4 separate regions of the Homo sapiens genome follow, and all the other regions are linked to region 4. Evidence: fine-mapped expression QTL. A gene starts in region 4. Each other region holds a variant in brackets. All regions are shown on one strand. Distances are from middle to middle.

Region 1 (8,101 bases), 35 kb before region 4:
TGGCGGGCACCTGTAGTCCCAGCTACTCGGGAGGCTGATGCAGGAGAATCGCTTGAACCCAGGAGGTGGAGGTTGCAGTGAGCCGAGATTGCGCCACTGCACTCCAGCCTGAGTGACAGAGCAAGACTCTGTCTCAAAAAAAAAAAAAAAAAAAAAAAAAAAAAAAAAAAAAGATGACAGTGGGCCCCTCAAGCATTTTTGAGTCTTTTTGTTTTTTTTGTGGCGCTGTCACTTTTGTGTTTGGTTCGGGCCTTGTTGGAGGTTTAGGGAAAAGACAGTCTGTTCAGTTCAGTTGGGAGCACATGGGCCTCAGGCTGTGTATAGCACCCTGTGGCCCGAGGGCCCAGAAGCCTGGCCCCGGAGCCCCTGCCACCCCATGAATGAGCTTTAGGGTCTGATGGCTGGGGCAGTGGCTCCCTAGGTAAGAGCCAGGTGTCACATGTGAAAAGTGGACCCAGCTGCCACTCCAGGGGTGGGAGGACTGTGGAATCGCAAGACCATGTACAAGAGGCCGATGGAATTGTTCTCGTTACTTTGTAGGCTTTATGTGCTGTGCTTGAGAAAATGCAAACAGGCTATTAGTCGGTGACAGGCAATTAGTTCCACCCCCGGCCTTGCTGCTTCTGCTGACGCAGGTTCCGAAGTCTCCTGGTTACCCAGCCTGGCACCCTCAGGCACAGCAGGGTGTCTGGCCCGGCACCCGCCCCTGTGGGGGCAGCAGCACGCCTTGTCTTCGCTTCCCTGCCATGCCATTCCCCTCCTTCAGCCCCCGAGAGCACCCCAGGGTGCTCCCTCCTCCAGCAACCTTCACCTGAATGCTCTCCCTCTAGATTACCCCATGGCTCACTCTTTCAGCTCTGCCAGCTCTTGGTTCAAATGTCACTGATCAGGGAGGCCCTCTCTGACTCCACTGCCCCAAACTGGCCTCCACTGGCTCTCCTCCCCACCCCTGCCTTAGTTCTTTCTGTACTCATGTGACACACCAAGCAGCACTCAGCTCATGGGGATGGCCTGGCTCCTCTTCCCTGTGCCAGTGTTTACACAACGAAGCTTGCACGTGTCTGGCAGACACTGGTGCCAGCAAACTTTCAGGGGCACCCACAGCCCCTGCCTTTCTCCTTTCACACATGGCTCCTTGACCCAGAGGTGCTCTGTGGGCTGGAGCTGACCTTTCCTCGGGGTGCACCCCACCCCCTGCCAAAGCAGCCAGCCCTGGCCACAGTCTGCACGCAGCTGGGGGCAGATGTTTTAGGAGCTTCTGGAAGGCCGGGCAGACCCTCCTTGGCTAATGTGCTGGGCTTTGCCAGGAGTGGTCTTCTGGGCCTCAGTTTCCCCACGAGTACCCTGAGCCAGGGAGGGATGGGGACTCCATTCTGCCCACTCCCCATCATTCCGGGGAGGGAGGTGGCTCCACAGGTCCTCGCTGCCTCCTGACAGCATCACTGTCCTGGATGAGGTGGGTGAGGAGGCTTCTCTCCACGGAAACAAGTCTCAGGGGTTCCAGGGAGGTTGCAGCCTGGTCTCCATGGCAATGGGTGAGCTGGTGCGGCTTCTCCGCGGGCGGCCCTTCCCCCTCCTGGGCCTGCCCTGGGCTGGAGGCTCTTTCTGAGGCAGAGGGGAAAGAAGGGGGATGTGCCTTCCTCACTCTCTTCCCCCTCATTGTAACTCCTAGTAATTCCCCTTCACGTCTCTCCCATTTCTGCCAACAGGGCTTGTTCCAAAACCTCTGGCTCCATCCCATCACCCGTGGCTCCTGACTGTGCCCTCCATAACTCCCACGTTGCAGGCCACAGCCCCTGTTAACCCCTCTCACAGTCCACCCGGCTCTTGAACCTGCGCTGGGCTTTCTGGCATCTCTCTCTCCTTGTGCCTGCTGGTCCCTCGGTGGAGCGCCTTTCCTCCTCCTCTTGCCCCAGCAAGCCTGGCTTGAACCCCAGGACTGCTTTGTGAAGCCTTCCTCAGGTCCCCCCAGCCCTTGGTTCATGGGTCCCAGACTCAGGTGTCTCCAGGGACCAGGCTGATAATATAAAAGAGGAGAGTGTCTAGATTATGCAATGATAATGTCATCTGCCCCTTCACCCCAGGGCTGGGTGGCAGTGGGGAGTGGTGGGGTCTGGCGCAAGCTGGAGAGTCCACACCCCCATCCCCAGGGGCAGCTTATTGCTGCCAGGTGGGAGTGCAGGCTCACTGTTGCCACAGCCTCCAGTTCTTCAAGAGAAGCCAGAAGTTAAGAACTTTTGGACAAACTTTCCAATTTAAGAACTGTTCGCTCTCGCCGGGTACCGTGGCTCACACCTGTAGTCCCAGCACTTTGGGAGGCTGAGGCGGGTGGATTACTTGAGGTCAGGAGTTCAAGACCAGCCTTACCAACATGGCGAAACCCCGTCTCTACTAAAAATACAAAAATTAGCCAGGTGTGGTGGTGCATGCCTGTAGTCCCAGCTATTCAGGAGGTTGAGGCAGAATTGCTTGAACCCGGGAGGCAGATGTTGCAGTGAGCTGAGATCATGCCACTGCACTCCAGCCTGGGTGACAGAGTGAGACTCTGTCTCAAAAAGCCTAAAGACCAAAACAAAACAAAAGAAAACAAAACAAATGAAAACTGTTGACTCAAATCAAAACATTACAGCGACCAAGCTGAGCATTCCTGCAGATTGAGCTTGGGCAGCCCTGGCATATGGTCAGGTCGGTTGGCCCCCCGTCTGGCTTCGTCTTTTCTGACACTAACAGGGTTGCACTATCATAGTTTACTCCCTCTCCAGGCCCTCCCCCAAGTCTGTGCCTCTTCCAAGAGAGGAGTCCCTCCTTGTTTATCTCTGTGATGTCCCCAGAGCCTGCGGAGGCTCTGGGGGACAGGACGAGCGGGAGCTGTAAGGACTGAGGACCGACAATGCTCCTGCCAGGCTCCATGCTCCTGCCTCTACTCACTGCCCCACTTAGTTCCACACCAAGAGCGAGGCAGGGGCTGTGAGAATGCTGCCTTTATGGAGGAAGAAAGGGGGTCGGAGAGGGAAGGATTTGCCCAGTCATGGGGTGTGAAGTGGGGCAGCTAGAACAAAATAGGATCTATTTTCGTTCCCAAGGCCAAGCACATCACAGGGGTGCAGTATGCTCTCTCTGTCTCTCTCTCTCCCCTAGGTCAGGGTGGTCCCTGGGGAGGCCCCTGGGTTACCCCAAGACAGGTGGGAGGAGCTTCCTACCCGACCCTCTTCCTGTCAACCTGGGCTCTGCGGCTCCCAGGGCTGCTCCTTGTATTGGGGCCCCAGCCTGGCTGGTAACAGAGGGTCCCTCCACTGGGCTCAGTCTTCTGAGCATGCTCTGCCCCCAGGAACCTGGAGGATGGAAGTTGGGGGCCCTGGGTCCCTTCCAAATGCCCTTGGGTCCTGTGCCTGGTCCCCAGTGCCCATTTTCAGAGCCCCTGGCCCCTCCCTGCCTTGTGGACTGTGTGACGTGATGCCAGTCCCCTGGGTCCAGGGGCATGGCAGCCGGCGGAGAGGCCTCTGCGGCCCCGATGTCTCCTTGAGTGGCTTGACTCTGCCAGCCCAGCGGTGGCCCAGCTAAATATACCCTGGCTGACGTCAAGCACTCTTCTGCTCCTGGGGTTTTTCTTAAGCTGCATTTATAGTTTGCGTATTGCTTTGTAAAGATGTAAAAATTTCACTTTTTTTTTTTGTTTTGCCCCTTAGCAGACTGTCTTATTGAGTGTAGTCTTAGATGATTATGAAAATCATTTACAGCTGCCGCATTAGGAAGCTGGCGTGTGTGCAGAGGCAGGGCATTTTGGTCAATGTTGGTCTTTAGGTGAAGAAAACTTCCCTCCCTTCCCCCAGTCACGCACATGCTCACACACGCACACATGCGCTCACACAGGCACACACACGCTCACACGTGCTCACACATGCACACACGTGCTCACACGTGTACACACGCTCACACCGCACACACGCACACCCGTGCTCACACGCACACATGCTCACACATGGACACACGCTCACACACGCGCTCACACGTACACACGCTCACAGCACACACACATGTTCACACACAACCTCACACGCACACACGTGCTCACACACGCACACATGTGCTCACGTGCACACAGGTGCTCACACACAC[A/G]CATGCACACACGTGCTCGCACACGCACACATGCTCACACACGCAAACACGTGCCCACAATGCACACACATGCTCACACGCGCACACACACGTACACATACACTTTCCTTCTCTCCTTTCCTCTTTGTTTCTCACCACCTCCACAAGGCCACGGAAGGGGCTACTTGGGCTGGGCTGGGCAGGGGGGTGTGAGCTGCCTCCTGGGGCCCAGCCTGGGAGGAAGGGTCAGCATGCTTCCTCTGGGAGGAGGCTTGGCCAACTTCTCTCCGTAGGTCTCTGGCTTACCTGGGCCTAATCCCTTCTTTCTTTTTCTGGGCTCTCTTTGTCTCTCTCCTAGGCCAGGGCGGTCCCTGAGGAGGCTCCCCTAGGCCACCCACTAGACGGGTGGGAGGAGCTTCCTACCCCACTCTCTCCCTGTCAAGCTGGGCTCCGCAGCTCCCAGGGCTGCTCCTTGGGTTGGGGCCCCAGCCTGGCTGGTAAAAGAGGGTCTCTCTGCTGGGCTTGGTCCTCTGAACATGCTCTGCCTCCAGGAACCTGGAGGATGGAAGTTGGGGGGCCCTGGGCCCCTTCCAAATGCCCTCCTCCCTGTCTTTTCTGCCCTGGCAGTGATGCCCCACAGCTCTGTGTCTACCTGGAGACCTCAGCCCTCTGCTTGGGGTCCAAGTCTCTGTTCCATATGCCCCTATGGAACTCCCCCCTCCATGGCAGCAGGAGCAAAGGCTCTGAGGCAAGTGTGCACCAGTGTCAGCAGGAGCAGCTGGGAGGCCGGTTGGTGGAGTGAAGTCAGGGAGGGTGCATGTAGGAGGATAACGCTGAGTCTGAGTGTCCCATGGCACGTGGGAGAGAGGATGGATTTTATCTGAGTGTCCCATGGCTCGCAGGAGAGAAGATAGATTTTATTCTAAGCATGATAAGAAGCAGTTGGAGGGTTTTAGTTGTGGTGGGAGTGGAGGGGGGAAACAAATGATCCTGTTTGCACTTGGAAGGGCTCACTCTGCCTGCTGGGGAGAAGGGCTCAGGGGCCAGGAGTGGAGTAGGAGGCTGCAGCTGCTCCCAGGCGAGGGGCAGTGAGGCGTGAGCAGGACATGGCCACCGTCGCGGGGGAAGTGGTTGGATTCACAGGTGACATTTGCCAGTAGACAAGGAGTGTGGGAACAGGGAGAATTCAGGACGCCTCAAGTCCTAGGACGTGGCAGGTGCAGATGCCAGATGCCATCTATGTGTTTCATATGAGAAGGTAAAAAGCAGGTGGAAGGGACCCTCTGCAGCCTCTAGTCCACGCTGTTCTGGTTGTTCCCAAGCGCTCTTGCTCGCCTTGGTTTGGCCGGGACTGATCATCAGGGTCAGCCCTTTCATTCTGGTAGGAATTGGAAGGATTCTAGGCAGGTGTGGGAGTTGAGGCTGAACCTCCTGAGGGATCAGAAGCTGGCAGGGCCCTGGATTAGGGCAGCACCACGGGTTTCCATAAACGCTCCTTCGTGTCTCTCTTTGCATGTCCTCAGAGCGGGATGCCTTCGACACGCTGTTCGACCACGCCCCGGATAAGCTCAGCGTGGTGAAGAAGGTGAGCTATTGGTGGGATGTTGGATGTGCTCTCCCCTGGCTCGCGGCTTTTTGACAGCACAAACGCCCCGCTGGGAAGAAGGTGGGAAAATGTTTGGAATCTCAGAAATGTTTGCCACATGGATTGAAATGTAATTACAGTCAAAAACCTAACCACAGTGCATAAAATCAGCGCCTTTTAACTCAACCTCGCTGCTCCCTGGGTGTCTTCCTGCCCGCCCGCTCCGCTTCTGTTAAGTGAATTACCCAGCCCCCATTTCTTTCTGACTCGAGACCTTTTTTCAATGTGGAAATGTTTTTAAGCATGTCAGCCTGCTGCTCTCGCTGGCCTCATTTACCATCTACAGCCTGCCCAGTAAACACGCAGGCCTGTGCGGCTGAGCTGTGCCATACATGGATTTGGCCCGTTTCCCTCCAGACAGAGAATGGGCCCTCACTAGCCCAGGCAGCCTGCTGGTCAATCTGTGGATGGAAAAATCTCCGAGGCTCTGGAGTTGGGGGCTGGGTGTGATCAGCTTCTGGGGGATCTGCCAGGGAGGCTTGTTCCCGTCAAAAGGAACTGGAGCCCACTGGCTGCTCATTAACTTATCCGAGTGCCTGCAGGCATCCCATTCAGGAGGCTGCTGCATCCCTCCTTCCCATAACATCGGAGGAGCGCTCATTTCAACCCATGGTGCAGGCAAGAGAGTTCTCCTTTGTCTAGGACAGCTTACCCAAACAGCTTTCTTAGTGCAAGACTTGTCAGAACCTTTAATAGGCTGACCTATACTGTACTTCTCCAAGAGGGAGCTTGGTAGGAAGCATTTTTCAAACTTGTTTGTTTATAGTGGGATTTATTTATCTATCAATTTTGGGGTAAGACGCATTGTATTTTAGTGGAACCCACTTTTGGAAAATGTTGGCCTGGGTTTGGACGATGAGATCATTCATTTTTGGAAGCATTTTGCAAAAGGCTGTTGGAACCGTGCTAATGGTCCTTCTGGGACAAAGCCTTCCTAGCACTCTTGGGTGGTGAGGGATATACTTGGAGCATCAGAGTCCCCCACCTCCACCTCGTCACATGTGGCCCCCAGGGACCCTGACAGAACCGGTTCAGGGAATGAATCAAATCCAGCTTCCCCACTTATCAGCTGTGTGACTTCTGGCGAAGGGCGAGATTATACCCCCCAGCCTCAGTTTCCCCATCTGTCAAGTGGGGACAGAGATGTTACCCACCTCTCAGGGCACTGTGAGGATAAACTGGGATTCTCTCTGTGCATGGGCTTAGCCGGCAGCGTATAGTCACTGGTAGCATTGAGAATGGTGTGGCCTGAGATTGCTTTCATCTCTCGGTAGATACCATGTTAATTCATTCTGCGAAAGACACATTTTCGGCACTGGAGCCACCAGCAAGGAAGAAGACAGAATCCTTTGATTTGCCTGGTAGCTTCCCACTCCAGCCTGTCCCTTCCTCACCTCCACATTGCAAGTTTAGGTGTCTGTAGCTCTCTGTGCCCCAGAATGAAGTCAGGGGCCCCTGCCCACCTCTGCAGGTTTCTCCCTGGGTCGTCCCCTCCTACTCCTTCCCATCCCACCCACATCCAGCCACAGCCTGAAGACCCCAAAGGGTTTGCAGATGTGTCTGGGTGCCCACTCGGCTCACTCTCACCTTGCACTGGCCCACCCTCAGGCCCAGCTCCAATGCTCCCTCTCCATGGTCTTAACGGGGGTCCGCACACCCATTAATGGCTCATGAAATCTCCCTTGCATTGCGTGTTTCCCTGTAGTGCCCTATCTCTTGACTTCTCCGTCCCACCACTACACGCATATGGAGAATTACATCACAGGCCCTTTGGCGGGGGCCAGGGGTGGAGCTCTCTGTGTTTGTGTCCTTAGCACCAAGCAGCATGCCTGGCACATAGTAGCTGCTCAGTAAATTTGAGCAGAATGGGTAAGAAATCATATCATGGGCAGGCTGGGCGCGGTGGCTCACGCCTGTAATCCTAGCACTTTGGAAGGCCGAGGTGGGTGGATCACAAGGTCAGGAGATCGAGACCATCCTGGCTAACATGGCAAAAACCCGTCTCTACTAAAAAATACAAAAAAATTAGGTGGGCATGGTGGTGGGCACCCTTAGTCCCAGCTACTCGGGAGGCTGAGGCAGGAGAATGGCGTGAACCCGGGAGGTGGAGCTTGCAGTGAGCCGAGATTGCGCCACTGCACTCCAGCCTGGGCAACAGAGCGAGACTCCATCTCAAAACAAAACGAAACAAAACAAAACAAAACAAAACAAAACAAAGAAATCATGTCATGGGCAGTGGTGGATGATATTGAGTTTCTATCAAAGTTGGCTTTGGTCACTGAGGAATTACAGGTGACAGGTTTTAAGCTTGTGCCGGAGAGAAGCCAGTGCCCCTTGGTACTTACATAATAGGGCTCAGAG
Region 2 (8,101 bases), 82 kb before region 4:
GCCATGTTGCTCAGACTGGTCTCCAACTCCTGGGCTCAAGCAGTTCTCCTGCCTCGGTTTCCCAAAGTGCAGGGACTACAGATATGAGCCACTGCGCCTGGCCCCAACACCCTTACTGTGGCTTTCTCTGAAGGAATGGGCAAGGCTGGGTGAACAGGCCTAGGCCTGGCTTGTTGGAATCGTTTCACTGGGCTTTGCGGTGCAGGAGCTGTCCTGAGTCTTCTCAGTAAGAAGACTCTTCTTCTTCCACACCACGTGGCGTGGCGTGGTATGGTGTGGCGTGGCGTGGCATGTCCCCAGGGCCAGGGGAGATTAGGGTGAGGATATTGGCTGGGAGTGTAGGAGCCCCGTGAGAGCCCAAGGAAAGAGGTGGCTGGGGACTCTGGGCTCTGCGGCTCAGGCTCTGAGTGGTTTTCATATGAAAGGTGTGCTCACAGAGGGTGGTTTACCATCTCTAGGAATTAGCTTGCCCTGGAGGTGCAATCTCTCCAGAGTCAGCAAGGCCCCGAGATGCCAAGCACCAGAAAATACAGAAAACAGGGCGGGCACGGTGGCTCACACCTGTAATCCCAGCACTTTGGAAGGCCAAAGTGGACGGATCACTTGAGTTCAGGAGTTTGAGATCAGCCTGGCCAACATGGCGAAACCGCGTCTCTCCTAAGAATACAAAAATTAGCCGAGTGTGGCTAGCCTGTAATTCCAGCTACTCTGGAGGCTGAGGCAGGAGAATCGCTTGAACCCGGGATTGGGATGTTGCAGTGAGCCGAGATCGCACCACTGCACTCCAACCTGGGTGACAGAGCGAGACATCTCAAAGTAAAAAAAAAAAAAAGAAAAAAAGAAAATGCAAAACACAATTAATATGCTTCTTCCCTTTGGGCCAGCCAGAGCTGCCCGCGGCCTGGGCTTGCAGGGTGGGCTCTGCCAAGTGGCCCAGGCCCCTGCGCTCACTGCCTGATGTAATGGGTAACAGCCAAGACACATTTTCCTTAAAGTGTGTTTTGGGATCTAGCTGATCTGGAAGGCATTTATGGAACATTCTGCGTATTTCCAAACCCTGGTTCGAAGGGAAGTCCCGGTTCATCCCTTTTTTGTGGTTTCCGTGACGAGGCCAGGCCAGCAAGAGCTTATGGAGAAGAAACGCCGATGCAAGTTCAGCCGCCAACCGACCCGAAGCCAGAGCTGGTGATGCTGCCTGAGGTCGCACCAGGGTCCACGGGGCTTTCTCTCCCTCCGCTTAGAAGAGAGTGGCCCCACCAGGCTCGGTGGCTCAGGCCTGTAATCTCGGCACTTTGGGAGGCTGTGGCAGGTGGATCACCTGACGTCAGGAGTTCGAAACCAGCCTGGCCAACATGGCAAAACCCTGTCTCTACTAAAAAATACAAAAATTGGCTGAGTGTGGTGGCAAACACCTGAAATCCCCGCTACCTGGGAGGCTAAGTCAGGAGAATCGCTTGAATCCAGGAGGCGGAGGTTGCAGTGAGCCGAGGTTGCACCACTGCGCTCCAGCCTGGGCAACAAGAATGAAACTCCATCTCATAAAATAATAAAATAAAATAATTAGCCAGGCATGGTGGCACACGCCTATAGTCCCAGCTACTCAGGAGGCTGAGGTGGGAGGATTGCCTGAGTCTGAAGAAGTTGAGGCTACAGTGAGCCAAGATCACACCACTGCACTCTAGCCTGGGTAACAGAGTGAGACCTTGTCTCAAAAAATAATAATAATTGAACTCACTCACTGAATATTTGCACAGCACCTGATTCTTTCTGAAGTCCTCTTTGTATATTTCATATCCTTTGGGCTCATAAATGTCATCATTGTAGCGAATATTGGGGGTCCACTGTGAATGCTTCTACTCCTCAGTCCCTTCAGTGACCCTGTGAGGTGGGTTGTATCATTATCCCCATTGTACAGATGGGGAAGCTGAGGCACAGATCTAAGATCACAGAGATCACTAGTAAGTGCCAAAGTCTTGAACCCCGGGCATTTTGCCCCCAGAGCTAGGCTCCTCCCCCTGCTCTAGACCCTCTCAGTGAAGATGGTGGCCCTCATCAGAGGTGAGTAGGACAGGTCCCTGTCCTTGGGCACGTTTTATTGCAGCTGGCTATGACGCACAAGGTGGGGAGGGCGGGGGCTCGGTTCCCACAAAACACTGGCACAGAGATACCACCCTGGCCTCTGGGCACTGCTTCTCCTCTGACTGAAGTGGAGAGAAACCTGAACCAGGCCCACCTAGCCTGTGTGGACCCAGACCTGCTGAAGATTCTGAGCCCATGTCTGACCCCCCGGCACCCCCTGGATGGAGCAGCGCTTGCTGTACCCACTGTGGTGTCCCGGGACTGTGGGCTCCTCGAGGGGTCCTGCCTCAGTCTTGGAGCCACCGAGAGGAGCATGGCACAGTTTAGCGACCACTAAAGTCACACAGCTCAGAGATGGCATGGCGGCTGGTGTCTGCTCTCAGCTTCCTTTTAGGAAAAACAAGGAGCCTCTCACAGCCCTTTTCTTCTCTCCCAGAGTCCCTGGAGTCCTGTTCCTCAATGCAGGATGTCAGAAAGTCCCAGGGCACTTGGCAGTGAGGGTTCCTGGCCACCCGAAGACCTACCAAATGGGAGTATGCGGGCCCAGGCCCCTCTGCTTTAAACATGCCTGCAGTGACTCCGGGGCCCACTGAGGTTTGGGAATTGCTCCCCTCTAGGCCGCGTGAGCAGCCCGTAGCAGACTGAGGGCCATGATGTGCAGTGGCCTGCGGGGGTTTCATGTCCAGGGTCCCCGGTCAAGGCTAGCAGGTCATGAATGCTGACAGGCAGCAAGGGCTGACTGTGAGCTCTGGAGCCCCCAGATACAGAGGTGTTTCTCATCTGGAGCAAGCGCCTGCTCTGAATCAGGCCCCTGCCCCGTGAGACGCAGCTGCTCCCTGGTCTGTGCAGAGCCTCTGATTCTGGCCTACTGTCACCATCACCAGGTGACCAGGAGATCCCGGCGGGATCTGCAGACATGGACACACTGCCACACATAGCTGCCTGCCTGGGGCCTGCTGTCCACCCTCTCAGGCCCACTGTTCCCCTCTAGGCGGGGTCAGGAATGAAAGCTACCCCACGGGGACAGGTAAAGACCGGAGATGCCTCTGAGAAAGTGTTTGGTAACAGTAAGCCTCGAAACGGCATCTCTGTCCTCCACCTTTCACAGTCTCTGGGTCAGACGCCCCATTCCTCTCAGTGGTCCCGCCGACTGAGGCAGGACCCCTCAAGAAGCACACAGTCCTGGGACATCCGAGCCACCATGGCATGCTGCCCAGTCTGGGGTCAGACGTGGGCTCAGAGCCTTCAGGAGGGAGCAGCGAGTTCCCTGTGGGGGCCACATGAGCTGGGCGGGCCCGAATCTTGCTTCTCCTCAGTTCAGCGAGAGCAAGGTGTGGGGACATGCTAGATAGGGCAATGCTGAGATTTTTAGTGTGGGTTGAAGGGGATGTTTCCAGAAACGGGCTCTCTGAAGGCTGGGATTGGGTAGTGACCTGCTCACTCTCCGTCCTGCACCCCCTCTCATACACGTGTGGACTCACGGCCTGGCCCTGCTCCTTGCCCGCCTGAGATGGGTGGTCCAGAGGGGGTCTCAGACATGGGTCACACAGGCACACAAAGTCCTCTTTGGGGCTGGAGAGCTTGGAAGATTTGGCATTCGGGCTCAAGGATCTCAGCTGGGGAGCTGAGGTCTGAAGGGTGAAGGAAACATGGGCCAGGGAGAGAGTGTCAGACAGCGGGAGCAGGTGCCAAGGCTCAGGGCAGGTGGCAGCAAGGCTTCAAGGAGTGAGGGAAGGCCGGATGGGCTGGAGCAGATTGCACCAGGAGGGCAG[G/A]AAATGAGGCGGGAGAGGGGCCTTGGAGGCCACATGGAGGACGCCGGCCTTGATCCCAGCAGGAGTGGGAGGCTGCGGAGGCCTTTGCAGAGATATCATCAGGACTCCCGAGAACTCCCTGCACATTACCTGGAGTGTCCTTTTCAGGCATCAGATCTGTATGACTTCAAAATTAGTTTCTCCATGTTGTCAGAGTTTACACTCTGCTGCCGGGAAGTTGCATCACATCCGTGTCAGCAGCAAAGTTTCACTCAAAGCCATTTTCTTTCTTTCTTTTGTATTTTATTTTATTTTATTATTTTATTTATTTTTAAAAATAGAGACAGGGATTTCACTATGTAGCCCAGGTTGGTCTGGAACTCCTGGGCTCAAGCAATCCTCCCGCCTCAGCCTCCCAAAGTGCTGGGATTGTAGGCAGGAGCCACTTACGCTCAGCTTCAAAGCTGTTTTCATTCTGACCGACATGGTCAGTGTCCCCAGCCCCATGGGAGCCTGTCTGGGCTCTGGGACCCTGGTCTCAACTGTGTCCTGGCCATCTCCACTTGTATGTCCTGGGGGTAACTGGCTTCTGCCTGGAGCCCCTCTTGTGCCTTTTTTCCTCTTTAAGAGAGAGGTGTGGTATAGAGCCTCCCGGTGAGTGGAGCCTGGGCCCCACCCGACCCATGCTCTGTGCAGGTCCCGGAGCTGGACAGTGTGGCAGCCTGAGACCCCCTTGCCCTTCCCTGTGTGTGTTCAGAGGTGCTCGGCGCCCGCTGGCTTCTGTGTGGTGCTGGGCATTTCTGCTGTGGAGCACGCCTAGCCTTGGTGGGTGCCCCCTCCGCAGTCCCGCCTCCCCACTGTCTCCACGGCACTGTCCTCCATGACGGGCTCAGCTGGCTGCCTGGTGTCTGTGGGATCCAGGCTGAAACGTGGAGGGAAAGCAAACAGGTAGAGAAATAGAAAGAGGGTGAGGCTGAACACGTTTTGCTGTTACACATCATCCCCCCCCACCTTTTTTTTTGCTATTTATTTCTCAATATTTTTTCTGCATGTTATTTTACATACAACATTGCATATTGATTCTTTTCCATGGAATGTACCAAACATTTTCCATTTCATTATAACCATCCAGACTCTTCAAATGTATTTATAAATAGTGGCCACAGGGAACTACCTGGTGCCTGAAGCTTTCCCACATACCAGATTCCGGCCAGCGGAGGCATCTCATGCCCTGTGAATGCTGCTCTCTCCTTATTTCTCCTGAAAAATGGAAATGGTTTGGACCAGCTGCTGGCGGAGTCTGGGAGGAGCGAGGCCGGGCAGAATGATGAGTTTGACTTCATCCCTTTCCAGAAGAGGGGAAGGCGGGAGGATGCCCCATCCACCTTCCAGAAGGCGGTTCCTTGCAGTCACCCTCCCCTAGTGCTGGGTTCTCTGCTTCTCCATTTGTCAGAGATGAGTTGGCCTCCCCCTGGTTCCCCGTGTCCCTGCCACCCCCACAATCGCTGACCGTGACTTCCTTTTGTCCCTGGCAGAGGAGAACGAGGAGCGCACGATGATTGACCCCACTTCCAAGGAAGACCCCAAGTTCAAGGAACTGGTCAAGGTAAGGAGCTCCGTCTTGGTTGGAATCTTCCTCTTAGGGCGAGGACTTGGCTTTGGGGTTCAGGGCTCTCATGGACAAAGGGAGCTAAACCCGGGGCTCCTGAAAGGGATGTTGGTGCTGCATGAGAAGGTGGGCAGACATGTTGGCAGAGGAGGACGGCAGAGAGGATCCAGCCCGAAGTGCCAAGCGCCTCCCATGTGCCCTGCTCGGCTGGGGCTTTAACGACCAGTCTTGTGAACTCTTTGCTGGACAGAGCTCGGCAGGAGGGGATTTTAGGATTAGGAATGAGTGCTGGCGTGAGCTAGTGTAGTACCTTACAGATGGAGTTGGAACTCCGTCTGGAGCCTGGTGGGGTCTAGATTCAGATTTAACCCTGAAAAGCAGGAGGGGTCACCCTGGCCACTCCTGGCCAGGAGCCATCTGATGCCGATGCCTGCGCTGAGTGGACAGTCAGTTTCCACCACGTCTGGAGGCGTGAATCCCAGCTGGGCGAGGAACCTGGCTGCCCCGCTCCCAGAAGTCAGGGAACAGTGAGGGAAGGGGCCCATGGTGCTGGCCTTCTTGGGCAGCGGCTGTCCTTCTCCAGCGTGGCTCCTGCTCACCGTGAGGCAGTGCTTGTGTGGGTCCAAGGACAGATTGCAGTTTTGGTTGCTCTGATCGAAACCACGGTAGGGCTTGAGAGAGAATCCCCTGAAGAGGAGAGGCTGTGGGCTCTGCCTGACCTTGGTGAACCCAGGGTGGGCTCTTGGGCACACGGCTGTGGCAGACACTTGGCTTCCATAGCCCACGGCGAGCTTGGGCACCCCGGGATTCTTGAAAATGCCGATGGTGACAGTGTCTGCCAGAAACAGACATTTTTCTATTAAAAGTGCTTTTTAAAAAGCTTCTCCACCTTCACCACCACAGTGGACCCAATGCTGGGCTGTACAACTGTGTTTTCATGAGGGCTCATTCAGAATAAGTAAGACGGCTTGCAAGTTATGTTCTTTTAAAATCTACATTGAGGCTGGGCGCGGTGGCTCACGCCTGTAATCCCAGCACTTTGGGAGGCCGAGGCGGGCGGATCACGAGGTCAGGAGATCGAGACCATCCTGGCTAACACGGTGAAACCCCGTCTCTACTAAAAATACAAAAAATTAGCCGGGCGAGGTGGCGGGCACCTGTAGTCCCAGCTACTCAAAAGGCTGAGGCAGGAGAATGGCATGAACCCCGGGGGGCGGAGCCTGCAGTGAGCCGAGATCGCGCCACTGCACTCCAACCTGGGCGACAGCGAGGCTCCGTCTCAAAAAAAAATAAAAAATAAAAAATAAAATATAAAATAAAATAAAATAAAATCTACATTGAGACCGGGCGCAGTGGCTCATGCCTGTAATCCCAGTACTTTGGGAGGCCAAGGCAGGTGGATCACCTGAGGTGAGGAGTTCGAGACCAGCCTGGTCAACATGGTGAAACCCTGTCTCTACTAAAAATACAAAAAATTTGCCGGGCATGGTGGTGGGTGCCTATAATCCTACCTACTCGGGAGGCTGAGGCAGAATTGCTTGAACCTGAGAGGCAGATGTTGCGTTGAGCCGAGATCTCGCCACTGCACTCCAGCCTGGGCACCAAGAGTAAAACTCCATCTCACAGAAAAAAAAAAAAAAGAAATTCCAAATGTCAGTTTTAGGGTCCACCCAAAGATGTTGATTATTAATAACTTAAATTATTTAATTTGTTTTATTTTTTCCCTCTGAATACCCACTTTGTTATTTCAAACAGAAGAACGTTGATGAGGAAAGTCACTGTCTTTTAGCCACGAAAATGTTGTTCTTGGGGGATATTTAAGCAAGGGATGCATGAGAATTATCAGGCTTCTACAAAGAAACAGACCCAATTGTGTCAATATCTAGAGAGAGGTTTATTATGATATTGGCTCACTTGACTACGGAGGCTGAGAAGTCCCCCGACCTGCCATCTGCAAGCTAGAAAGCTGGAGGGCCAGTGGTAGAGATGCCAGCCTGCGTCTGCAGCCCTGAGTACCGGGAACAGGGTGGGAGAAGATCCAGGTGCTGGCACTAGCAGTCCCCGGCAGAGAGAGGTGAATCCCAACTTCCTCCACCTTTTTGTTCTATGGGATCAGATGAGGCCCACCCGCTTTGGGGAGGGCTGTCTGCTTTACTCTATCCACCAATTCAAATGCTCATCTCCTCTGAACACCATTCCAGACACACCCAGAAACAATGTTTCATTGGCTATCTGGGCACCCCAGAGCCCAGGCAAGTTGACACAGAAGATGAACCATCCCATGCACCTTTCTAAAGATTTTTTTCTTTGATTTTTGAGCAATGCTTGAGAGTTCACAAACTCCATTCACAGGATTATCTCCTTGAAACAACACCCTGGGGAGCTGTGTCATTCTTGCTTCCATGTGGAGACTCAGAGAGAGGTGAAGGGGCTGGGCGCCATGGCTCACACCTGAAATCCCAGCGCCCTGGGAGGCCAAGGTTGGGGGGAATCACTTGAGCCCAGGAGTTCAAGACCAGCCTGGGCAACATGGTGAAACCCTGTCTCTACCAAAAAAAAAAAAATTAACTGGGTGTGGTGGGAGGCACCTGTAATCCTAGCTATGCAGGAGGCTGAGGTGGGAGGATTGCTTGAGCCCCGGAGGTCAAGGGTGCAATGAGCT
Region 3 (8,101 bases), 22 kb after region 4:
TCCACCTACCTGCCTGTCCATGCACCTATCTTCCTGTCTGTTTATTCATCTACCCAGTCCATCCATCCATCCATCCACCCACCTACCTGCCTGCCTGTCTACCCACCCATAGGAAGTTTATCTATATGTCTGTCTGTCCATCCATTCATTCATCCATCCACTTGCCTACCGGTCCATTCACCTGCTTGTCCTGTCATGCATCCATCTGTTTGTCCTTCAATCCATCTTCCTGTTCTGTTTATTGATCCACCCAATTTACCCATACACTTGCCTGCCCATCCACCCACCTGCTCATCCACCCATCCCCTACCCACACGCCTGTTCCCCCATTCCCTGAGGGCCTGTTTAGTGCCAGGCCCTGAACTGCATGGGATGTTAAGTTGATCCAACATAGCTCTTGCTTTCAGGGAGCTCTCAGTCTGTGCCCACTGTTCTCCTAGTGACGTGTGGTCTTGCAGGGCCACAGTGAAACGTGTTGGTTCAGATGCCTGGGTCAGAGGAGGGGCCTGGAAGAATGAGGGCTTAGAATAATCTCAAGGAGTCAGGAAGGGCATTGCATCAGAGGGGAGCCGGGAAGTTGATCAGGGATTGGTTTGCAGAGTTATCAAGGAAGGGCTTGCAGAGGGGAGGGAATAGCATCAGCAAAGGCTCAGAATGTGGCAAGAACAGGAATGGGTCAGGGAGGTGTAGGTGCTTCACTCTGGCTAGAGGGGCTGGAAGGGTGGGGCCTGACCTGGGGGGATCAGCAGTTCCCACGTGGACCCTAGAGGCTGGTGGACTGGCTGGGAGCTGGCTGCCTGCTTCCAGGCATGAGGGCTGTGGCTTGACCTGGGGAAGAGGGATGAAGAGAGTGATGGAGGTGGGGTGAGAGGGCAGGTGAGCCTGCAAAGATGCAGCTCCCACCGCCTCTTCCCCAGGTACAGCCTTCAGTGCCCGCTGGCTAGTCCTGCCTCCGCCCCCGCCAGGCCCCTGTGGTGTGTGCCACCACTTCCTCCAGCTCCCTGGGCTCTCCCATCTCTGGGCTTTGCCACAAGCTGTTCCCTTCCCAGGAGCACCCTTCCTACCAGGTAGGCCTGGCCCATGAGAAGGGATTTTACTACTTTCCAAATAAGGAAAGAGAGGTCCACGGGCAGCCAAGGCTTACCCCGGGTCACTGCCAGGCAAGAGGCCTGAGTCTTGTGCTCTTCGCCACCAGCTCCCTGCCTGCCTGGACCTCAGGTTTTCTGTCTCTGAAAATGGGCTGACAATCCCTGCCCCCTACTCAGGCCACACAGGTAGTAAGAAAGAGTTTGGAGAACCATCGAGGAGAAAGCATTGAGGGACATGTGGTCCCTAGTATCCCCAGGCTTGCCTCTCACAGGAGGTGACATTGGAGGCGTGCATCCCAAAGGACAGGCTGGAGTGTTGGTGGCTGGTGGCGTGCCCAGGATCCCGGGCAGCCAGCTTATCTCCATCCATGCCAGGGTTCCCGTGGCCTGGGGCAGGAGGACCTCTTTATCTCTCTGCAGCAGTAGCTTTTTCTAAAGAGGTGAAGCAGGAGGCAGGGCCACATGCCCCGTCCCAGGGCCAGCCTCTGGGGCTGTTTCTGGGAGAGACAAAGGCTTCCATCCCTTTCACATGCTCAGGGCGTCCTTGGCCCTGGATCAGGCCTCTTGGCCTATCTGGGGCCCAGTAGCAGGTGAGGTCCCCCCTGGACCCCTACCAGACTCCCCCTCCACCTAGGCCCTTCTTCTAGGCCGCTCCCCTTAACCTTCCTGGACACCCACCCTTGTGCCTCTCCCCTGCTTCAAGTGGAGCACCCAACTGCCAAGCCCCATCTGCCTCCCCGACCACGTCCCCTCCTCCCTTCCTGCCGACTCCCAGCCACAGCCACAGCCACAGCCACATGACCTCTGGCCCCCTTCCAGCTCTCCAGGGCCTGGTCCTCCCCCATTCCCTCACATCCACGCAGGCTGTGCTCTCAGCCCAGCCTACCCTGGCTTTGCTTCCCACCTGCTTCCCTGGGCGGGCGGCCAGCTCTGCCCACCTTCTCAGCTCCTCTGCAGTCCCTCGGCGCTCTGTGGGGCCCTGTACCACAGTCCACACTCCCTTGGGGTTAGCTCCCTGCACTTTGCCTCTCCTGGCCCTCTCCCCACTCACCCTCCCTCCTTGCCCCTGTGAGAGCGGGGCAGGGCTGCATCTCCATTTTACAGAGGGGAGCCCAGGGCCCGAGAGGCTTACCCAGTACCACCCAGCTGCTCAATGGCAGCCTCACACCAGCACAGCCTGCCGCCCGCAGCCTGCCATGTCCCTCGCCCCCACGGGGATGCATCTTGAGTGGGTGTGGCCTCCACCTTCCCTGGAGGCCAGGTGCTCTGGACTTGGTTCCCAAGAGCTGGGATGTTGGGTCAGAGCAACGAGGCCGGGGCAGTCAGTGTCTACGGTCCTGGTGGTTGTGGCAGGCACGGTGCCTGCTGCTTCCTAGGTTCTTCCATTCGGAGGAGCTGCATCAGCCAGCCATTGCCACAAACGTGCTGCTTAACAAACCACCCGAAAACCTAGGGGCTGAAAACCATGCTCATTTCTTCCCACAGACCGGCAGGTCGGCTGAGTTTAGCTGCTAGAGGCTCAGCTAGGCTTTGTCACTCCTCCGAGGACTGGATAGGGATCAGGCTGTCGTGGCTGGGTGGCTCGGCTCTGTGCCACAGCCTGCCATGTTCCTTCTGGGACCAGCAGCTGGCCCGGGCACGCTTTCCTCCTGGCAATGGCAGACACATGAGAGACCAGGCAGAAGGCATGAGGCCCTGGCTCAGAATGGGCAGGCTGCCACTTCCATCGAAGCAGGCCCTGTGGCCTTGACAGTGACATGGGACAGCCCTGCAAAGTGTGTGGGTGCAGAATTGGGCCGATGGTGGGATCTCCCACGGGCAGTGTGGACGAATGTGCTAGCAAATCCTCATGTTGGGTCTTGGAGTTAGGAACTCTTCCCATCCCCACTTCCACAGAGGAAACAGTTGAGAGAGGCACAGAAGTCTGGCCCAGAGCACACAGTGAGTTAGGGTCCTCCCTGTTTCCCTCCTGTGGAGCCAATGTGAGTCTCTGGGAGATGGAGGGGTGGCAGGGCTCAGTGGGGTTGAAGCCAAGGCTGAGACTGGGGTCAGAGCCTGCCTCGGGAAGGCAAGGCACTGAAATGTGAGCGGTGAGGAGAGAAGGCGGAGGAAGGGGGCAGGCAGGACCACCTGCGGGCTGAGGGCCTGGGGCTCGGAACCCAGCTCAGAGCCACTCTGGGGTGCCCCTGGGCTGCAGGGCCTCTGCTCAATCTGTTGCACCATCCAAGCCCCAGTTACAAGACGGGAACAAACGTGCAGACTTCCATGTTGCTGTGTGCAGCCGCTTTGCTGAATCCACTGATTTTAGAACTTACTTCTGAATATGAGTCAGATTAGATGTGGGGGAAAAGCAGCAGCCTCTTAGCTCAGACTCCAAGAATGAATTTTTACAGCATATTGTGGGCAATCTCTGCTGCAGGAATGTGTAATCAAAATGCTGAAGAGGTCGTCAGCTGAGGAGGGCGGGAACACCAGCCCTTGCTGAAGGTGGGCCTCTGCGGAATTGTTATCTTGGCAGAGTAGCCTCTTGAAATTGGATTTCTCATTATCAGACCCTCTTTGCTGATGGTGTTTATGTGAGATAGTTATTCATTGTGGGCACGGAAGTTAAGGATGGAGGGAGAGAGGATCATTCGCTCCCAGAAATAAAATCCCCGGAGCCAGGAATCCTTGGCGTCCTTCCACGTTAAATTACTTTCCCCAGGAGGATTTGCACGTATCCTCCCGGGTTGTAACCTTCTCTCAGCTCCGTGGAAGGTGGTAGTTTTATCTTCATCTCAAGCCACACGCGGAAGAAAAATCTCTGGACAGAGCATCATGAGATAGCTCTGGAGCCAGGGTCAGCTCTTACTGGGGGATGATCTTTTGTTCAGATTGAGTGTCATTGAGGAAGAGTGTGACAAACAGAAGCAGATGTCATAATTTTCAGTGTCGATAGCAATTCCCAAAGCATAAGCTCTATGAGGGCAGGAGGTCTGGTCTGTTTTGAGCACTGGTTGTATGGCTAGCACATAGTAGATGACAAGTATTTTTTTAAATAAGTGAATGAACGAAGTGTTTCCAAAACATTGGTCCCAGGAGGTGTTCTGTGACAAATGGGTTCTATGAATAAATAACTTGGGGAAACATGTCTAGTCTTGAAGGTTCATGCGGCCCACCAACACATTCAAGGCTCTAATAAGTCCTGCAGTGAAGGACTTCCATAGTATTTTATTTAATCCAACAATTTCTAAAAACGTTTGGCCACAGATATCCCCTTTCCTGTCCATCTTAGATCACAGTTTGGGAGATGCTGGCTCGCTGAATGTATCAAAGGCGGAGCTTTGAGGCAGGAGAGCACAGTGCGGAGTCTGGAACCTCAGGTTCCTCAGGGTCTTGTTCTCACTCCGACATTTACTCTCCATGTAACTGCAAATAATATTCGTGATGAGAATGCGAACAATAGCAACAATTGCAACCCTAGTTTCCCAGAATATTCCAGTCTAGGAGGAAGAACTGGGGACACAGTGATGGGAACTTCCGGTGATGCTCTGGTCTGTCCACTC[G/A]GAGCTTCCCATCCATCTTGGTCTGGACAGTCTCAGAGTTTCACCCCGCATTGGCCCCTGCAGCATGCTGCAACATTGGTGCCGTGTGATAGCCTTTGTTTCGCTCTTGTCACCCAGGATGGAGTGCAGTGGTGCAATCTTGGCTCACTGCAACCTCCGCCTCCTGGGTTCAAGCAATTCTCCTGCCTCAGCCTCCCAAGTAGCTGGGATTACAGGCACGTGCCACCACACCCAGCTAATTTTTGTATTTTTAGTAGAGACAGGGTTTCACCATGTTGGCCAGGCTGGTCTCGAACTCCTGACCTCAGGTGATCTGCCCACTTTGGCCTCTCAAAGTGCTGGGATTACAGGAATGAGCCACCGTGCCTAGCCTGTTTCTTCTTGTTGGCTGACTACAGAGGAGCGGCCCTGCTGCTGCTGCTGGGCACCCTGCCCATACACTCCTTTCCATCTGGGACCCGCCCTCCATCTTCATGTCCCCACGTGGAGAAGGACTCTGCTCACCCACTTCCAGCTCCTATGCCTTCATCATCCTCACCTTCAAATCTTGCTTTGTGGCTTCAATTCTGTGTCCGTCATCACATTGGACGCACATGGCAGCCTTGGAGAGGAAGGCAGACAGGTGTATCATCCCCGTGACACAGATGAGGCACCTGAGGCCCAGCCAGGATGTGTGACTTGTCCGAGGTCAGACACTTAGTGGCAGGGATGGGGGTGGCAGTACACAGACATCCAAGCTAGATCCCAAGAGTCCTCTTGCTCGGGCCATCCAGCAGGTGGCTGGAGGTGGCCTGGGCCAGGCTGGCGTTTCTGGATGAGTCTTGCCTGGCCTTGCTCATCCACCGCTCGGCCAACCTGGCCTCTTGGCCCCTGGCGGGTTGCCATGGGAACTGCCCTGTCCTGGTGGGGCTGGTGTGGCCAGGCAGATAGGGAGGGAACGGGACCAGCACAGCTGACCCCCGGGCTGGGATGTCCACCCCGTCTAGTGGATCTACGGGTGGCTAAGACATTGAAGGGAGGACCTGTTTGAGGTCACAGTGAACCAGGAGTTCATCCCTCTTCACCCACACCAGGCTGCTGCCCTAAGGCAAAGGGCTGGGACCTACTCTGCTTGTAGACGAGGCCCAAGGGAGAAGCTAGAATGGAAAGGGAGGGGACCTACTGTGGGAGGGCCGGCAGGCTCCTGGGCTCTCACCATATCCTGTAGCAAGGCACAGGGGAACTGTGGTGAGCCCACTTTGCAGGGGAGCAAGGGGAGGCCCTGGGCAGGGACTAAGCTGAGCTCTGAATCACTGGGGGACTTGACTGATGCCCGGGCGCTCTCCACCCTAAAGGGAGCCATCTCTGAGACTGCACCCCAGGCAAGGGGTGGCGGAAAGGACAGCCACCTGGGTGGGGACCGCTCCAGTCTCTAGCCTGCTTTGCATGAGCATTGGAGCGGACAGACCTGGTTTGAGCGCTTTCTGTCTCGTGAGCTCCAGTGAGCCCCTTGGCTCCTCTGAGCCTTGATTTCCTCACTGTGCTTTGCCCTGGGAAACAGCTGTTCTCAAAGGTGCTCTGCCACCCCAGGCCCTTGCTCCTTTCCCTGGGTAGTTCTCCCTGCCTGGCGGGACTCACCACCAGGCTTCACCTCCACCAGGAAGCCTTCCCTGATCCCTATTGGGTATCCTCCTTGGCGATTGCCTTTTTCACGGGCAGTGGCCCCTGGACGCAAGCGTGTGCCCAGTGTGGTATAGCACCTGCTCAGAGTGGGGCCTGTGAGTGGCTGAGGAATGAGACATGGATTGCTTGTGTGACAGAGTGAGCTGTAGGGAGATGCTGGATGACCACGGATTGTGGTCGTGGTCAGGGATGCCCACCTTGGATGGGAGTTTAGGCTCATGATGGACATCACAGACAACAGGAAGGGCTTGGCACTTGGGACCCAAGGCCTGGCCTGGGGCTGCTGCTTGTGCCCACATCTGATAGGGCCTTGTCATCATAGCTGCACAACGTCACCCTGGCGCTGGAGCTGCTGAAGGACGAGGGCCTGCTCAGCTGCCCTGTCAGCCCTGAAGGTGAGTGCAAGGCAGATGCCCACACGGTGGCCAGCCCTGGGTGGCAGCCTTGTGCGAGAGCCACAGAACAGGGTGCAGGGCATTGGGGGATGAGCACGCATTGGCAGAGTCCTCTTGCCTGGCAGGGGTGGAGAATGGGCGCTTGCCAAGGTTTCTTGGGAGGGGGCACTGCAGCCCCAGGGGAAGAGGTTCTGGGGAGGGGGAGACCAAGGTCTCTGGGGACAGGTTGTCCAGAGAAGCCAGACCTTGAGGAGTTGCTGTGTTGGGGGCACCACAGGAGCATTCAGAGGAGGACTGGCCAGGAGGAGGAGGCAGTCACGCAGCAGGCGCGGGACCCAGGCCTGGAGTGACCAGCTGTCCTGGCTTCCAGGGATTCTCCTGGGATTAGCACTGAAATCCTGAATGCCAGGAAACCTTGACCACATCGGGACAGTCGGTCACTGCCACCCAGGCCTGACTGGCTGCCCTGCCCTCCTTTGGCCCGCAGATATCGTGAACAAGGATGCCAAGAGCACACTGAGGGTGCTCTATGGTCTGTTCTGCAAGCACACGCAGAAGGCACACAGGGACAGGACGCCCCATGGAGCCCCGAATTGACCCTCACTGCCTCCAAAGCCCAGAGCCTGCCTGTCAGCCCAGCTGGAGGGCCCGAGGCTGCAGGGTGTCCTCCCACAGTCCCGCTGTTTCCTGTGCATTCGTGACCCGCTTCCCTCCCACCCTGTCTCCTGTCTCCATCGTTGGATTATCTTTGAACCCCCTTGTGTGGATCATTTTGAGCCGCCTGGCCTTGCTCAGTTTATTTTAATAAAAGTATTTCTGGGAGGGATTCTGGGAACTTGACAGGGTCCTGAGGAGGGCCCTTAAACCTGCAGCCTCCCTCCCATGGGGTGAGTGTGTGTCACATCAGTCTCTCATCTCTGGGCCCAGGCTAGTGACCGCCCAGAGAGGTGGCATCACTCAGGGCTGGGGACTCTCAGGGACAGGGCCCACAGCCCCAGACCCCACCTTTTCCAGCCCAGCTCCCCACACCCACCTGCTTCTCACTCGGGAGGATGGGCCCCAGAGTCACCCTCCAGGGCAGGAGCCCGAATGGCTCCATAGCCATGCCCCCACCCACCGGGAGAAGTGGATTCAGTGACTGTCAAAGCAACCCGGGCTGTGTCCTGCAGCTGCCCTCGTGAGTTTTGCCCAAAAGTCACAAAGAAGCAATCTTCGTGGTTGATTAGTGGGTTCAGGTCATCTCCAGTCTGTCCTCGGGAGCTGTGGGTTCCCACTCGCTCCAGTGAGACTTGGCATTTTCTGCACATAAAGAAGAGTCGTGTGGGAGAATTGCACATAGTCAGTCCAGGGCATCCAGAGTGGGGCAGAGCTGATGGCTGATGGGAACCGGGGAGGAGGCTGGCGGGGAGGG
Region 4 (8,101 bases):
AAACCATATCACTATGTTTACCTGGAGACTCATGAATGTTAACATTTTTACTTTATCCTCTTCACTCTCTTTCTGTCCCTGCCTATCTGCCTCTCTCGATATAATAATAATGATATATATTTCTTTAGACGCACACATTTACCTGGTGATATATATATTTTCTGAATCTTTGAGGGTAAGTTGCATGCATTATATCCTCTTCACCTCTAAATACATCAGTGTAGCTTCCTAAAAGTGAAGACATTCTCTTCCATAATCTCAGTATGTGTCATAATCAGGAAATAACATTGATACAATGGCATTGTCTAATCTACAAACCTTAATTGTGTTTTTTTCCAATTGTCTCAATGATGTCCTTTATGCCAAAATAAGAGGCAGGACAAGGCATTGAATGAGTTGTCCCATCTCTCCAGCCTCCTGTAGTCTGGAGTGGCCCTTCAGTCTTTCCTTATGTTTCATAGCCTTGATTCTTTGGAGAATCCAAGCCAGTTATGTTCCAGAATGTCTTGCAGCTTGGATTGATCTAGTATTTTCCTCGTTATTAGATCCAGGTTATGCGTTTTCGGTAGAAGTGATGTGTTCCTCTCAGCGCATCATTACCAGGAGACATGTCATGTTGATTGTTTTACTTTCTTATGATGTTAATTTTGATTACTTAGCATGTGAGCACACGTCTGTGGTCCCAGTTACCCAGGAGGATCACTTAAGCCCAGGAGTTCAAAGCCGCAGTGAGCCGTGATCACACCACTGCACTCCAGTCTGACAGAGTGCACTGTTTCTATTTTTAAAAAATATATATTACTTAGTTAATATAGTGTTTATCAAATTTGTACACTAAAAAATGTAACTCTTCTTTGTAATCGATCAATATTTATGAGGAAAGAATTTTCACTTTTGGAGTTACCTTTCCATCAGGAATAACTAGAAGCCTCCACAAAACACAGGAAACAGTTACTTCAGACATTGGACATGCCTTTGCTCCCCCTTCACCTTCCACCATGACTGTGAGGCCTTCCCAGCCATGGTGGAACTGTGAGTCCATTAAACTGTCTTTCTTTATAAATTACCCAGTCTTGGGTATGTCTGTTTTAGCAGCATGGAAATGGACTAATACACATAGGAACTCTTTGTACTTTCCTGCAGCTTTTCTGTGAGTTTGAAACTATATAAAAGTAAAATGTTAAGAGGCGAGTCAGATCTGTGATCCCCAAGAAAAGGGTGGCAAGTGAGGTGAGCCCTACCCTGGTCTTGGCTTTCTGCCTGGACATAATTCCTGGACTGTGCTGTAGTGAGGGGGACCCAGACAGAGCCAGGTCTCACTGATTTAAGGAGACAAAGATCAGAGCTTGCAGAGATTACGCTTATTAAAAACAGACATCAAAAGAATATTTCTGCCAGAAAAATTCCAACACTTCTTAAAGAAATGCAACAAAATTCAGCACGCGACGACATAAAAATTTAATGTCTAGCATTCAATAAAACATTATTATAAAGAAGCAGGAAACTGTGACCCACAATCGGGAGAAAAATCAGTCCACAGAAGCAGACCAGGAAATGACAGAAGTGATAGATTCTACAGGACAACTGACCTGGATGTTTAAAAAATGTTAGTGTCGTGAAAGATTGTTCTAGATTACAGGGCTCTAAAGAGACATGAAAACCAAATGCAATCACATGTGCTGTGTGATGCCTGAATGGATCTTGGATTAAAAAAAATACAGCTGTAATAGACATTTTTTGAAGCCTTGGTGAAGTTTGAATGTGGATGAGATATTAGAAAACCTTCTATCAATGCTAATTTTCTTAGGTATCATAATGGTACTGTGTTATGCAGGAGAATGTTTTTAGGAGAAACATTCTGAAGTATTTAGAGATATCCCTAAAGTGATGTGATCCCTGCAATTTATTTATTTTTTATTAATTTTTAAAAATTTTAGTTGTGGTTAAAAATACACGTAACATAAAATGTACTGTCTTAACTATTTTTAAGTATACAGTTCAGTAGTGTTTGGCATATTTGCACAGGTATATTTCACACCGTGTCTCTGAAAAAAAAAAAGGCTGGAATAATTCCCTTCTATCCATGCCTTTCTCTTAATTGGGGTTTGGGGGTGCTTGGACTTATCTCCATGTTACTCTTCCAATTCTTAGAGTCCCTCTCTTCCCCTAAACAATGCTCTACACACAAGAGGCTTTGTGAGTTGTGGATTTAGTCTGTTGTAACTCCACACCATACAGGATTAGATTTCGCATCTGATTCTTACATCAGCCCTGCAGCCCCAAGAGATGAGAGATAGCTTTGAGGGCTATCAGAGAACTCCCTGTATTCTGCACATACCTTGAGCTGAGAATGTAAAGCCCTGGGACTGTCCTTTTCTTGCTTTAAACTCTTTGGTGTGATGATAACAAGCTCACCCCACAGTCCTTAGATAACCTGTGCTCGTATTGCGTATGGAAGCCACAACTCTGCCAAAGCCACAATTTAATAGGTACTTCGTTCTGAGTGATGACAGGTAATTATTTTGCCATCACAGGCTACGATCTATTAGAACTCCATTCTCTAACAGTTACTAGGTCCCCACTGCCTTTAAATCAACCAGAACAAGTAACCAATCCCAGTTCCCATCCTGGAGGTCGTGTTGCCTGCAATTGTTTCTGGTAACAAATCCGAAGTTAATTGGGATTCAGTTGCCGATGATTAGAGTCTCTTCAGTTGTTTGGAGGAGAAAGGAATCTAACATAGGAAGCTGTGTGATTCTCAAGCTGTTGGAAGGCTGGAGGCAGCGCCTCCAGCAAGGACTCTTGGAAGAATACTGCAGAGCTGGCTCCTGAAGGAAGCTGCCGAGTCAGGCTGGCCCTAGAAGCATGCTTTCTGGGTTGAATGCTTTAGGTTCACCTCTGCAGATCCACTCCCCACCATTTTCTCTCCTCACATCTATGGGCCGCAGCAGGGGACTTCTTTTCTCTGGCTTCTGGCTGGATGTGGGCAGGGGAGGCCCTGGCAGGAGGGAGGAGAGTGAGGCTTGGTCATTGATTCCTCCAGCTGTGCCCTTCTGCTGGTTCACCATGAGCTGGCTGTGTCCCTCTACCAAAGGCCACAGCTCCTATCCCGAGGCCCCTCTTAGAGCTTCAGTGATTCTGTTCCTGGGCTCTGCCACCCACTCCCTCCTTCACCCTCTAGGTTTTGAAGAAGTAACAGCTCCCCATGTTGCTAGCCTGGGGTGTAGCACTGTCTCTTCTGGGTTCCTTTAACCCTGCCCCAGCTGTCCCTTTATTAAACAGTCTTCAGTTAGCACATGGGAATATACCGTCTCTTTGCTGCTGGGACTGTGACTGCTGCTACATCTATGTGGCTGTGATCCAGAGTCAGAAGCCACCACCAGAACCACTGTGTCCAGAGCTGGGCTGAGCCTGCTACACACGCCCCAGCAAAATAGGTCCTGCACGGTGGCTTCTCTCCCCACCTGTTACAAGCCCCAGTCTAGCACGGGCACTTCAGAATGGCAGGGACTGACTCATGTGCCTCAGTGTCTTCCTCTGTAATATGGGGGTGATGATTGTACCTACCTCACAAGGAAGTTTCCAGTAAAATGAAAGCCCTTAAAATTATGTTTGTTTCATCACCAATGACTCCATAAATATTAGCAACAATACCAGTACTAAGTTTTGTCATTTTTTATTAACTTCTTGTAAACGACCCTACTTTCCTGCTCTCACACACTCCTTACACCTGCATCCCACCTGATTTAGCCACTTTCTGCCTAACCTGTCAGAAAGGGTAGATAGCTTCCCAGTCACCTGTTGCTAGGGAAACTCACCATTTCAGCCCGGATGGTGAAGATTCCAGCTTGAGAGACCAGCTCGGGTCTGAAGTGTTTCTCTATCTACTGTGCTGAGATCTCTCCTTCTCGAACCCTGCTATGCCTTTGCATACGCTGTTTTCTCCACCTGCCACGTTCTCACCCCTTCTTCTTCCACTGCAAACTCCTATGCAGCCGTCAAGGCCCCATTCTCCTCTGGAAAGCCTTCCCGATCCCCTTGGCAACAACCACCACCAATATTTATTCACTGAGCCCACTTTGTGCCAAGCATTGTTCTAGACACGGGTATGTAACCGCGATTGAGAGAGACAGACCACGCACAGCCTGGATTTTATTTTAAGAGCTATTGGGTGCCGTTGGTGGGTTTGAGTGAGTGGGGTCAGGAAGTGACTCACTCCTCCGAGGGCTTGTGGGAGCCTCAGCTCAGGGGCGGGCAGGGGGCGTGGGGAAGTCTGCAGCCGAGAGTCCAGGTAGGAGTCTCCTGCGTGGTCCCGGGAGAGGAAGGGGCCTGGCCCGGGGCGGGGTGTGGAGGTGGGAGGACGGCGGTGCGGGATGGAGGGTGGAGGCCAGGCTGACAGGGTGCTGGTGGTGGGTTGCGGGGGTCGACCCCAGGCTCTGGCCTATGTAGCTGCCATTTTGGAGGTGAACAGCCTGCGGGGAAACTGGCATGGTTTGGGGAAGGCGGGGAGAGGGGGAGAAATGAAAGCATTGAGTTTAAGTGGCCTGCAGAACCCCGGGGGCCCAGGCGGCACGGCGGGCGCTGGGGCTCCGGGCAGAGCTTTCTGGAGGTTTGTGGCAGCTTCACTTTCACGGCATCCACCCCCCTCGGGCCCTGCCGCAGAGAGGAGGAAGCTCCTGCCGGCTGAGCGGGCCTGGAGGAAGTGAGCAGCGGGGCTCCTGCCTCCCGGCCTGGTCCCCGAAGACCCCAGAAGAACCCGGAACTTGCTTCCATTCGGAATCCAGGGACCACCCTTTGCACTCAGTAGGCCTTTGTTTTCCTGCGTGGAAAGCGGTTGGGTGAGTTCTGGCATCGGGGCCACCATACTTGAGTGTTGGGGGTCACGGAGGGAGGGGCCCAGACACCACCTGGGAAGGATCCCAGAGTGCAGTCCCAGCCCAGGCCACCCGGGGAAGGGAGTCGGTAAAGTGGGACCTTGAGTCCCCACGGCCCCTCCGGCTGCCCCTGCTCAGAGGCTGCTCGGCGTCCTCCCTCCCTGTTCTACTGAGGAGTTGCCGCCTCTGAACTTCAGCCAACCCCTCCGTCTCCAGGTGAAGAAACTGAGGCCCTGGGGCCAGGAAGGGGCTTGCCCAGGCTGCTGATCCCTTTGGGCAGCATCGAGTCCAGGCCCTCCTTGTAACCATGCATCAGGACCAGAGAGGGCAGGGGGTTTGCCCAACGTCACACAGCCTGAGTGAGGAGGAGCTGGCCTGGGACCCAGGCTTCCTGACGCCCAGGCCAGGCTCTTTCGTTTTCTCTGGCCATGGCCCTCAGCTTGGATATTAAGGGGCTGGGAGTCAGTTGTGTCCCCACCACCTCCATGCTACAGGGCAGGATGGAGTCTGGCATCCCCCGCCCCAGGCTGGCTGCTGGTGTGACATGGGTGGCTCCAGTCGAGTGAATGCCTCCGTCTCCCACAGCTCAGGGGGCTCCCTGCTCTGGCCACCAACTTCTGCCATGTGACTCCCCTACCTCAATGTCTGATTGAGTTTGAAAACACTGAGAAGACCCAGGGGCTGAAAAGGGAGGAAGAGGGAGGCCAGAAGGCGCCAGCCGAGCCAGCGAAGCCTTCACAGGAGAGGAAGTGGGCCAGGGGAACAGGAAGGAGGGCTGGGCTGGCCTCTGGGTCTGCCCCTGTCCCGGGCATGTGGTGAGCCCAGCCTTCTGCCTGTAATGAGGAGGAGGAAGATGAACAGTGCCTCTGTCAACCCTGGCCCTTCCGGTTTATGGGATGGGAGATGTCACCATTCCACGTATCCACCTCAGCCAGCCCCACACAGGCCGACCGGGGAGGTTTCCCTTGAGCTCAACCTGACAAGCTCTGAGGAGTGAGCTGTACCTACTTTGTCCTGTCTGGGATAGGGTGGGGGGTCCCTGGGTAGGGGGCTGGGGGCTGCAGGAGCACGGTGGGCGGCCGCTCTGCACCTGCCTGAGGAAGGACCACTTCCTCCGCCAAGCCTTTGCTTGGCTGTGCCCGCCCTCAGCTTCTGTGCCTTTTTCTAACCCGTCACCCCGCAAGGGTTGGCTCAAGGGCTCTTTCTCACAGGGCCCGTACCCCCTGCCTAGGCTGGCATGCTGACGTGTCCCCAGAACCTGGCTTCTACCCTCCTTCTGTGCCTCCAGGTCTAGAGAAAATGAGGGGCTCAGTGAGTTTGGGGCTTCTCAGACCGTGACGCCCTCTCCTGCCTCCTCTGTGCAGGCTTGGGAGGCGATGGAGCCGGAGTTCTTGTACGACCTGCTGCAGCTCCCCAAGGGGGTGGAGCCCCCAGCGGAGGAGGAGCTCTCAAAAGGTGTGTGCCCACGCAGGTCTGAGGGTGGAGGGTGAAGGTCTGTGTGGCAAGAGTGAGCCTGGCCATGCCTGGGACTTGCAGCACCTTCCCAGCTGTCAGCTGAGCGCCCAATTCTGCTCACCCCTGCCTCCACCTTCTGCTTTATGCTTGACCTAACTCCTCCTCCTGGGACCTTCTACAGAGCTAGAACCTCTTCTCTCCAGATGAGAGACGGTGTGGATTACGATGGTGAATACTGATTGCTCTCATCCTGTGAGCCTTCTGAGTGCCCCTACTGCACCAGCACCTCTTACCAATAGCAACTCATTTATTCTCAAGGGCGGGCATCAGTGCCTGCTTTATACAGATGAGGAAACTGAGGCACAAGGGGTGACGTGCCACAGTAACAGGAAACTCTTAGCAAGTGGTGGACCTGGGTTCTGAGCCCAAGGAGGGTGGTCCCAGAACTGAGGTTCCACACGGACCACGCAGCGATGCCCACCATGGAGTGATACTTTGCAGGGTGTGGGGCTCCTGACGTGCTCCCCTCACACGTGTGGGTCCCTTTCAAAAGTGGGGTGAGCATAGGATGGAGCAATTCAACGACTATAGGTCGCCCTTTCAGTAAAGCTCTGTGTCATGAGCCCTTTGGGGGGTTGGCGGCCACAGTTCCTGCAACCTCCCTTCTAGGAGATGGCTCAAAAGAAGGACATGGGCAGGTACCCAGAGCTGTCACCCTCTCTGTGTTCTCTGAAAGAAACAAATGAACAACAGCTTGCAAGGAAGCAGCGAGATGTCCCAGTGGGGAAGGGCTTTAGGTGAACTCATTGGAATTTATGTAACCACAAAAACATAAATGTGCTGACAAAGAAAATGTGTGAAATAATTTAAGGGAAGGGAGCAGAATGCGGCTTTCTCCAGCTCCTGTGAATACCGCCTTTTAATGTTTATTTATTTATTTTTTTCTTGAGACAAAAATCTCACTGTGTCACCCAGGCTGGAGTGCAGTGCCAGGATCTCGGCTCACTGCAGCCTCTGCCTCCCAGGTTTAAGAGATTCTCCTGCCTCAGCCTCCCAAGTAGCTGGGCTTATAGGCACCTGCCACCACACCTGGCTAATTTTTGTATTTTTAGTAGTGACGGGGTTTCACCATGTTGGCCAGCTCGGCCTCAAACTCCTGACCTCAAGTGATCCACCCGCCTCGGCCTCCCAAAAGTGCTGGGATTACAGGCGTGAGCCACTGCACCCAGCCCTGAATGCCGCCTTTTAAGTAGGTGTTATGGAGCGAGAACTCCAGTGCCAACAGGGTCCCTGGCACGGCAGATGAGACCCCAGAAGGGACAAGCTTGGTCCAGAGTCACCTGGCTGTCTTTGTCACCATCTGGTATTCTGTGTTTAAAACATTGAAGATTAGAAAGTGTCCTGAGGAAAGTTGCTGAGTTAGAATAGTAGGACTTAGTTACTACCAAACAAAACAAACAAAAAAACCCATTAATTTTTTGTTTTACAACTGATTTAAATTACTAAAAGTTCTGGCAAGCAGAGCTGGGACATTGGATGATTCAAGCGGCAAGAAGTCTGCTCCAGGAAGGAGCAGCACCATATCCATTCACTCATTCCTTCATTCCTTCCTTTCTTCATTCATTCATTCGCCTGCTCACCCGCCCAAGTGTTTGCTGAGAGCCTGCCCTGTGCTGGGCACAACAGCCCATGACGCTGTTGCCTTCCCTTTCATCAGAAGACATGGGTCTGGGTAGTACTTGAAGGTTTTCAGAATACCTAGGAAAAGCCTT

The links. PIP is the estimated chance that this variant, and not a neighbour inherited with it, causes the effect.
Region 1: its variant is fine-mapped to the expression of PARVG in CD4 T cells (CEDAR, PIP 0.95).
Region 2: its variant is fine-mapped to the expression of PARVG in whole blood (TOPMed, PIP above 0.99).
Region 3: its variant is fine-mapped to the expression of PARVG in whole blood (INTERVAL, PIP above 0.99).

The regions. Positions count from the first base shown.
Region 1 is chr22:44,142,243-44,150,343 of GRCh38, forward strand. It overlaps PARVB (parvin beta), which reads left to right. Exons shown (of 13, transcript NM_013327.5): 9 at 5,619-5,680. Among named protein-coding and RNA genes, the nearest start is that of TRU-TCA2-1, 4.4 kb to the right of the region's middle. RefSeq lists enhancers at 3,199-3,828, 3,829-4,458, 5,717-6,346. The variant A/G (reference allele first, on the strand shown) is at 4,117.
Region 2 is chr22:44,094,688-44,102,788 of GRCh38, forward strand. PARVB (parvin beta) reads left to right here. Exons shown (of 13, transcript NM_013327.5): 3 at 5,366-5,436. Among named protein-coding and RNA genes, the nearest start is that of TRU-TCA2-1, 52 kb to the right of the region's middle. The variant G/A (reference allele first, on the strand shown) is at 3,852.
Region 3 is chr22:44,199,140-44,207,240 of GRCh38, forward strand. PARVG (parvin gamma) reads left to right here. Exons shown (of 14, transcript NM_022141.7): 13 at 6,618-6,690; 14 at 7,178-8,101. The coding sequence ends at 7,287. Among named protein-coding and RNA genes, the nearest start is that of PARVG, 22 kb to the left of the region's middle. RefSeq lists enhancers at 1,308-2,117, 2,929-3,738, 4,999-5,499, 5,500-6,000. The variant G/A (reference allele first, on the strand shown) is at 4,634.
Region 4 is chr22:44,177,080-44,185,180 of GRCh38, forward strand. PARVG (parvin gamma) reads left to right here and starts at 3,846. Exons shown (of 14, transcript NM_022141.7): 1 at 3,846-4,106; 2 at 4,663-4,838; 3 at 6,239-6,329. The coding sequence starts at 6,251. RefSeq lists silencers at 3,107-3,156, 4,327-4,456 and enhancers at 3,833-4,563, 4,564-5,293, 5,294-6,023, 5,337-5,426.